Regions from separate parts of the Homo sapiens genome. Here all the other regions are linked to region 1. Evidence: fine-mapped expression QTL. A gene starts in region 1. Each other region holds a variant in brackets. All regions are shown on one strand. Distances are between the middles of the regions.

What was found.
Region 2: its variant is fine-mapped to the expression of USB1 in whole blood (TOPMed, PIP above 0.99).
Region 3: its variant is fine-mapped to the expression of USB1 in whole blood (TOPMed, PIP above 0.99).

What each region holds. Positions count from the first base shown.
Region 1 is chr16:57,999,967-58,002,785 of GRCh38, reverse strand. It overlaps USB1 (U6 snRNA biogenesis phosphodiesterase 1), which reads right to left and starts at 1,379. Exons shown (of 7, transcript NM_024598.4): 1 at 1,205-1,379; 2 at 141-307. The coding sequence starts at 1,302. It overlaps ZNF319 (zinc finger protein 319), which reads left to right and starts at 2,114. Exons shown (of 2, transcript NM_020807.3): 1 at 2,114-2,819. RefSeq lists enhancers at 1,141-1,240, 1,267-1,561, 1,734-1,903, 2,761-2,819 and silencers at 1,321-1,570, 1,861-2,460, 2,511-2,640.
Region 2 is chr16:57,898,072-57,900,571 of GRCh38, reverse strand. The region is part of intron 29 of CNGB1 (cyclic nucleotide gated channel subunit beta 1); the gene reads left to right. Among named protein-coding and RNA genes, the nearest start is that of CNGB1, 72 kb to the left of the region's middle. The variant T/C (reference allele first, on the strand shown) is at 1,522.
Region 3 is chr16:57,893,214-57,895,713 of GRCh38, reverse strand. All of the region lies in intron 31 of CNGB1 (cyclic nucleotide gated channel subunit beta 1), which reads left to right. Among named protein-coding and RNA genes, the nearest start is that of CNGB1, 77 kb to the left of the region's middle. The variant C/T (reference allele first, on the strand shown) is at 1,489.

The sequences.
Region 1 (2,819 bases):
CTCTGCTAAGTCAATGACTTTCCCACCACCAGTGTTAGAGGTTTCTGGTTTCTTCCTTCTAGTTGGGGCCAGATTCTGCCCTTCATGAGGCACCTACGGGTCTATGGGTCTTGGCAACTTGCCTTTCACACATCACTCACATGGTACATAGACGTGGGTGGCCCAGTTGCCTCGCTCGTGGGGGAAGGTGCGCACCCGTCCCCCGTGTTTTGTGCTGTCATCTTCAGGCCCCTCCTCGGTGCCCGGGAACATGTTCAGCACACTGTCAGGTACTGGAAATCTCTGCCTGGGAAGGGGGCTCTGGCCACTGCAAAAGAAAAAAAGAAAAATGAGTACATTTATCCTGTTAGCATTCTCTACCTTTGTATATACCACAAAAGTTGTAACCCCTTATATATGGTGGCTCTGAGTGTGTGTTTCCAGCCTGGTGCTGGAAGCAGCTTCTAGATAGCGAAATTGTTTCTCCAGTATTGTCTCATTGGGGTCTCCAACTCTGGGGCACAAGGTCCCCATGGGAAACAACAGGGCATGCAACAATGTGGTTCAGGGGTCACATTTCCAAGCTGGACAGGCTGCAGCTGGAGTAGCACTTTCTAGCTCTATGACCTTGGGCAAGTCATGTCCCCTTTCTGGGCCTCAAATGCCTCATCTGAAAGTATATGTCTACCTGATAGAGCAATTGTGGGATCAACTGAGCTACTGCTTGTAAAGCACTCAGCAAAGATAAGGCCTAGCATTTAAGAATCTAAGCCCCAGGAAGTAAGGCCGACGGTTTTGTTCACCACTGAATTACCAGACCCCAGCCTGGCAGGGAGTGGGTGCTCAGTGAATATTTACTGGATGAATGAAAAGGCTCTCCCTACGCTTTAGCAAGTATTACTATCGCAATTGTATTCAAATCAGGAAACGGACCTAGGATGGTACAGGGATGTGTGCCAGGCGATAGAGTGGGCCAGCGCGAGGCTGGACCCGAACCCAGGTCTGGCCTCCCAACTTGGCCCTAGCCAGGTGGGGCCACTCTGGAGCTTTGTCTGGGGTGGGGGGGAGGGGTATATCTTCTGGATCCTCCTTTCTTCCTGCGTCCCCTTTTCCTTCCCAGAGCCGCCCCGCATCCTCCCTCCCCACTCCACCCCCAGACATTCGGGTCCCGTCTGGCTCTAGGGTGAATGCGCGCGCCCTCCGGAGAGACTTCCTCACTCCTCACCGACGGTGGCTCCCATCCCCCGGCCTGGTCCGCATCCCGTCCTCGGACTCATCCTCGGAGCCGCTGCTGCTGTAGCCCACCAGGGGCGCCGCGCTCATGGGGCCTCATCCAAGACCACCAGAGCAGGTCCACCAGCAACCTCAACCGGCACCCGGAGTTCCGCTGTGCCGGAAGCGCCCTCCCAGGGGCGGGGCCTGGGCTGGCACCGCCTCGGGGCGGAGCCGGGAGGGGCGGAACCCGGCAGGACAGTGGTGAAGATTCAGCCCACCGACTCCAAGCTGTCTGCCGGCTGCGCACGCGGATCTGGTCACCTGCAGCCTCCCGGCACCCCGCTGGGACCTCCCCAGCCTTCGTGTACCCATTTCATATATCGCTCAGGGCCCTCACCTTTCTGCCCGCTGCTGTCTGCAGCCACCCGGGACCAGACATACCAGACACGACAGTCCCGGGTCAGCGCACTAGACCCAGCGGAGACCCCTGCCTGCCCCGAGCCCGGCCAGGATCAGAGGTCCTGGAGCCCCCTCCTCAAACCAGCCCAAAGTCCAAGCCCCTAAAAGCCAAGCTGAGCAGTTAGGGGCGGATCAATTGTGGCAGACCAGAGCCTCTAGGAGGCCCCTCCTCTCCTGCGCAGAGCCGGGCCGAGGGCGGTCACCCGGAGCCCCCTCCCCTAAGCCCGAGCGGGGTGGCCGGAAGCAGAGCGCCCTTCCTCGGTTAGTCGAGGCGCCCAGGCCTGGCGACTCGAAAACCGCCCGGAGCACCCGGCTTGTCCGACCTGGCCCGGCCACGGGGTCCCCGGCAGGGGGCGGCCTCGCTCCGCGCCGCCCGCTCCTCCCGCATTGGCCGCCGCCGCCCGGGATGCCGCTCCTCCCCCGGCCCCGCCTCCCTGGCCCCCGCGCCGCCCGCCCGTCCGCCCGTCTCCGCAAGGCCATCGGTCCGTCCGCCCGCCCTCCCGGCGCTCCTCGCCCCGGCCCCGCTACTCCGGCAGCGCGCGTCGCTTCCTCCGTTCCGGCCGCCGCTAGCCCGTCCCCCGCCCCCGGTCCGGCCGCAGCCGCTACGCGAGGCCGGGGATTGGCAGCGCGCGTAGGCCGCGCCGCCGCGGATGGAGCCGGAATAAAGGGGCGGCCGAGAGAGCAGCTGGTCGCCGCTCGCCCCGCGCCTGCCCTGCAGGCGGCCTGGAGCAGGTGAGCGGCGGGGCGCCCGGGGCCGCATCTGGGGGCCACCCCCGCGCCCGCCGCACCCCTTCCTCTGCCGGCCCGGCCGCCCCCCCGCGCCCCTCCGCCGCGACCTAGCGGCCTCTTGAGCTTCTGGGCGGCCCAGGCCGGGCCTCGAGGCGCAGCCGCTTCCTGGGCCCGGCCTGTAGCCCTGGGGCCTTTCTCCAGCCCGGCCGCCCTCGGGGCTCGCCCTCGGGTCGCAGCGGCCGGGCCATCCCGGACGAGGGCTGACAGGACGCAGCCCAGCTGGGCCTGCAGGCAGGGCCGGCGGGAGGTGATCGGCTTTCATTCGGTTTCTCAGGGAGGAAGAAGAGACGGGGTGGGGCGCAGGTGGGGGGCCTCCCCTGCCTCTCCTTGCCTCCTCTCTCCCCTTTGCGGAGTGATCACAGAGGCTTCCTGGCTGC
Region 2 (2,500 bases), 100 kb after region 1:
GACAATGTCTAGAGCCCTTTCTGCTCCCTGTCCTTGGGGTTCAAGGTGAGACCAAGGTCACTTGGTGAGTGACGGGAGGGGTCAGGAACCCAGGTTTCAGTCCTCTTGCACAGAGCCGTTAATAAGTTAATAATAAACCGTTAATAAGCATACGGGGGGAAACATTACCCAAGCAGGCTCTGCAAGACTTGGGAACCCCCGTCCCCAAGAAAGTCCCTGTCTCCAGGTTATATGCTGTGCAGCAGTGAAATTTCTGGAAGCAGAGAGCCGGGGTGAAGAGGGGAAAAGTATGCTTCAGAGACCTGAGAATTTAAAGCTGCAACCTTAGGGGCAAAGAGGGGTTTGGGAGCAATAGAGTGGCCTGCCTGACACTGGAGCCCCTTCCTGGCTGTGCAGCCTTGGGCAAGTGGCTTGCCCTCTCTGAGTCCTGCTCATCTTATGGATAAAGTGGGGGATGTTGATAGTACCTCCCTCATGGGGTGGTTGTGAGGGCTGAATAAGATGTGCATACAGAGCTTAACATTGTTCCTGGCACACAGCAGCTGCCAGTACTGTTGCTGTTGTCTTCGTGGGTGATGCAGAGTTTGCTTTAAATGAGAAAAAGTGAATCTAGAGTCTGTGATTGCAAATTAAATTGAGCACTTGGTGAGCACGTGTGAAGGGCGCCCTCTGCTGTCTGGTTTTGCTCGGCAGCGATCTCTCTGAGACACCCCGGGGACTGGTTACTGAGGTGAGGGTCCCTTCACCCTTTCACTCTTGTCAAACTAAACAGAAACATGGAGGCAAACCTCTCTACCTTTTTGTTAAGGGGGTCATGCATGTGTGAAATGCACAGGAAATTTTTGTCAAATAAGTCAAAAGTGTGACAGTTACTGTCCTTGGTCACTCCCCCCACCCCTTATTTATTTATTTGTTTGTTTGTTTGTTTATTTGAGACCAAGTCCCACTCTCTCTCCCAGGGTGGAGTGCAGTGGCACTATCTCGGCTCACTGCAACCTCCGCCTCCTGGGTTCAAGCATTTCACCTACCTCAGCCTCCCAAGTAGCTGGGATTACAGGCATATGCCACCATGCCCGGCTCATTTTTTTATTTTTAGTCAAGACAGGGTTTTGCCATGTTGGCTAGGCTGGTCTCGAACTCCTGACCTCAGGTGATGTGCCCGCCTTGGCCTCCCAAAGTACTGGGATTACAGGCATGAGCCACTGCACCCGGCCCCCTTTTTAATTATTATTATTATTATTTTTTTTTTCTGTAGACCTCCTCTTCCCCTTTTAAACACATGTGACTCACAGGTAGCTGGCCAGGACAAGGGCCGGTGAAGGCATGAGGATTGGAAGGCGCATGGCAGACTAGGTGTTTCTAATTGCAGTCCAAAGCAAGCTATTCATTCATGCATGCATTCGGTTTAACTTGGGATTAAGGCCATTGTATTCATTCTCCAGGCTGCCGCGGGACACTGTGCAACTCCACCACAAGCTGGGTGGCTTCTCTCCTCAGCTTGTAGGTGGTCATCTAGTTTTT[T/C]TTGTGTCTCCTCACATCCTCTGGTCTCTATGCCTGTCTTTGTGTCCACATTTCCCTTTTGTTAGGACACCAGTCATATTGGATTAGGTCTAGAAGGACCTCATCTTTAGGAATTACATCTGCAATGACCCTATTCCCAAATAAGGTCACATTCTGAGATGCTGGGGATGAGGATTTCAATATATGAATTTGGGAGGGAGTACATAATTCAACCCATAACAACCATGAACTCTGGAACCAGACTGTCTGGGTTCAGATCCCAGCTCTTGGGCAAAGAGTGATCTCGACTCTGAGGGTTGTTGAGGATAAGTAGTACACTGCATAAAGCAATTTGGGGCTGGGCACAGTGGCTCATGCCTGTAATCCCAGCACTTTGGGAGGCTAAGGCAGGCAGATCACTTGAGGCCAGGAGTTCGAGACCAGCCTGGCCAACGTGGCAAAACCCTGTCTCTACTAAAAATACAAAAATTTGCCGGGCATGGTGGCACATGCTTGTAATCCCAGCTACTCGGGAGGCTGAAGCATGATGCCTGTAATCGCAGCTGTTTGGGAGGCTGAAGCACAAGAATTGCTTGAACCCAGGAGGCAGAGGTTGCAGTGAGCTAAGATCATGCCACTGCACTCCAGCCTGGGCGACAGAGCGAGACTCCATCTCAAAAAAAAAAAGGCAATTTGAATATTATCGTTATTGTTGTTCCCATTCCTGTTGCAGTTAGCAAATTCTTCCCGAGCCCCTGAGATGTGCCAGGTGTAGACATCATTTGATGGTGGGAGCTGCTATCTGATTTGCCCTGCCTCCATCAGTGAGTCTAACTGGAATTTGCAGAATTCCATTATACCTGCACCTCCCAGGTTAGCTGGCACTTCCCATTCCATGACATCACTAACTCCCCCACTGCAACCCTGTCAGTTATGGAGGGCATGGGGTAGTCACTCCTCCAAGTCTACAGATGGGGTGACTGAGGCCTGAGAGGGAAGT
Region 3 (2,500 bases), 110 kb after region 1:
CTTGATTCCTTTTACTGGGGGATGGTTTTTAGAAACCACGATCTGAGTCCTAGGAGCAGTCATTGCTACTGGAGTGCTACTAGGCCTCTGCAGCAGACAGAACCAAGAAACACACCCACATACACACCAAGATGTATAAGTACAAATATATATATATATATAAAAAATACATATATAATATATTATGTATATATAAAATACATACACACACATATACATGTATATGCCAACTTAAATTTTTCTGTCTATTCTACTGATTATCTATAAAACAATTTCAATCCAGCACCACAGAATTCATTCTTTTTTTTTTTGAGACGGAGTTTCACTCTTGTCACCCAGGCTGGAGTGCAGTGGCGCCATCTCAGCTCACTGCAACCTCTGCTGGAATTACAGGCATGTGCCACCACACCTGGCTAATTTTTGTATTTTCAGCAGAGATGGGGTTTCACCATGTTGGCTAGACTGGTCTCAAACTCCTGACCTCAGGTGATCTGCCTGCCTTGGCTTCCCAGAGTTGCTGGGATTACAGGTGTGAGCCACCGTGCCCTGCCACCACATATTAGAATTCATTCTAATATTCTCCCTTTTCATACTTGTAAATCTCTTCTCCAACACTGAGCAATACAGGGAAGTTCATTTCAGAATTTCCAGCCCATGTCACTGTAAAAACAAAAAGTAAGGCTTCTAGGTAGAGTTCAGTACTGGATGCAGTTCTTTTGTGTTTAGCCCGAGTATATATGATGGAAGTGTTACGTTCAAAGTTATCTGGAGTCGTTCTCTTCCTCCACTACCCTTTAATGTGGTTACTTTATTCATTTGAAATACAGGTAGGTTCACTTGTTTCAGTTTACATTCCATTTAGGGCTCCTGCCACCCTGATCTTTGTTGACTTTTTCTTGTTTTCAGTATGTAGAACATTAACATGTTCCTGAAGGTCAACACTCTGCAAAATGGGGCACTCAGAAAAGCGTCCCAACTCTCCCTGTCCCCATTGCCCCCTGACTGCAACTCCCATTATTACGTGGCTCGTTGCATCAATTTCTGCCTTTTCTTTCCTCTGCTTACTTTTGCGAAAATGGACAAGTCCACAGACATTTTCTTTTTTTCTTTTTTGAGATGAAGTCTCATTCTGTAGCCTGGGCTGGAGTGCAGTGGTTAGGTCTTGGCTCACTGCAACCTCCACCTCCCGGGTTCAGGTGATTCTCCTGCCTCAGCCTCCTGAGTAGCTGGGATTACAGGCATCTGCCACCATTCCCAGCTAATTTTTGTATTTTTAGTAGAGATGGGGCTTTGCCACGTTGGCCAGGCTTGTCTCGAACTTCTCACCTCAGGTGATCTGCCCGCTTCTGCCTCCCAAAATTCTGGGATTACAGGTGTGAGCCACCACACCCAGCCCAAACATTTTCTTATTTCTTCTTCTTTCTTACACAAAATATGGCATGCTGTAGATTCTTGTACTTTGCTTTGTTTCCACATGACGACAAAACC[C/T]GGAAATCATTGTCTATCAGTGCAGAGTCAGCTTCCTCATTCCTTTCCACAGTGGCAGAACATTCCTGTAAATGGACATTTAGGGTATTTCCACAATTTTGCAATTACAAACAGTGGTGCAACGAATAACCGTGTGCATCCGTATTTTGCATTGTTGGGGAACAGGTCATTCTTTTTAGAAAAGCCGGTTTTTGTTTTCAAACCCTTAAGATCAGGTTTCAAATTGAGCGACAGGCAACGTAGTGTGTCAGGAACCCCACAATAGGTCTGGGAGGCTGGCGGGGCTCAGATCCCTTCCATGTGAGGTGCTGGCTGTGTGACTTTGAGGAAGTTGTTTAACTTTTCTGGTCTCAGTTGTCTCCTATGTAAAATAAAGGTCATAACCCCTACTTTGCTGCTGTAAATTTTTTTTGTTTTTTTGAGATGGAGTCTTGCTTTGTCGCCAAGGCTGGAGTGCAGTGGCGCAATCCTGGCTCACTGTAACCTCTGCCTCCTGGGTTCAAACAATTCGATTCTCCTGCCTCAGCCACCCCAATAGCTGGGACTACTGCAGGCACATGCCACCACACCCGGCTAATTTTTGTATTTTAAGTAGAGACGGGGTTTCACCATGTTGACCAGGCTGGTCTGGGACTTCTGACCTCAGGCGATCTGCCCGCCTTGGCCTCCCAAAGTGCTGGGATTACAGGTGTGAGCCACTGTGCCTGGCCTGCTGCTGTGAAAATTAAATAGTGTGCAGGAATGTCTCCGGTGGGGTGCCTGTCATACAAGAGAGCTCAGTGCATGTTAATAAGGATCACTTCAGGCCGGGCGCAATGCTGCATGATTGTAATCCCAGCACTTTAGGAGGCTGAGGCGGGAGGATCATTTCAGCCCAAATATTTAAGGTTACAGTGAGTTATGATCGTGCCACTGCACTCCAGCCTGGGTGACAGAGCAAGACCCTGTCTCTCAGATAAATAAGCAATTGTTCCTCTGTAGCCATCAAATTCACCCTATAATTTTTCAGTTG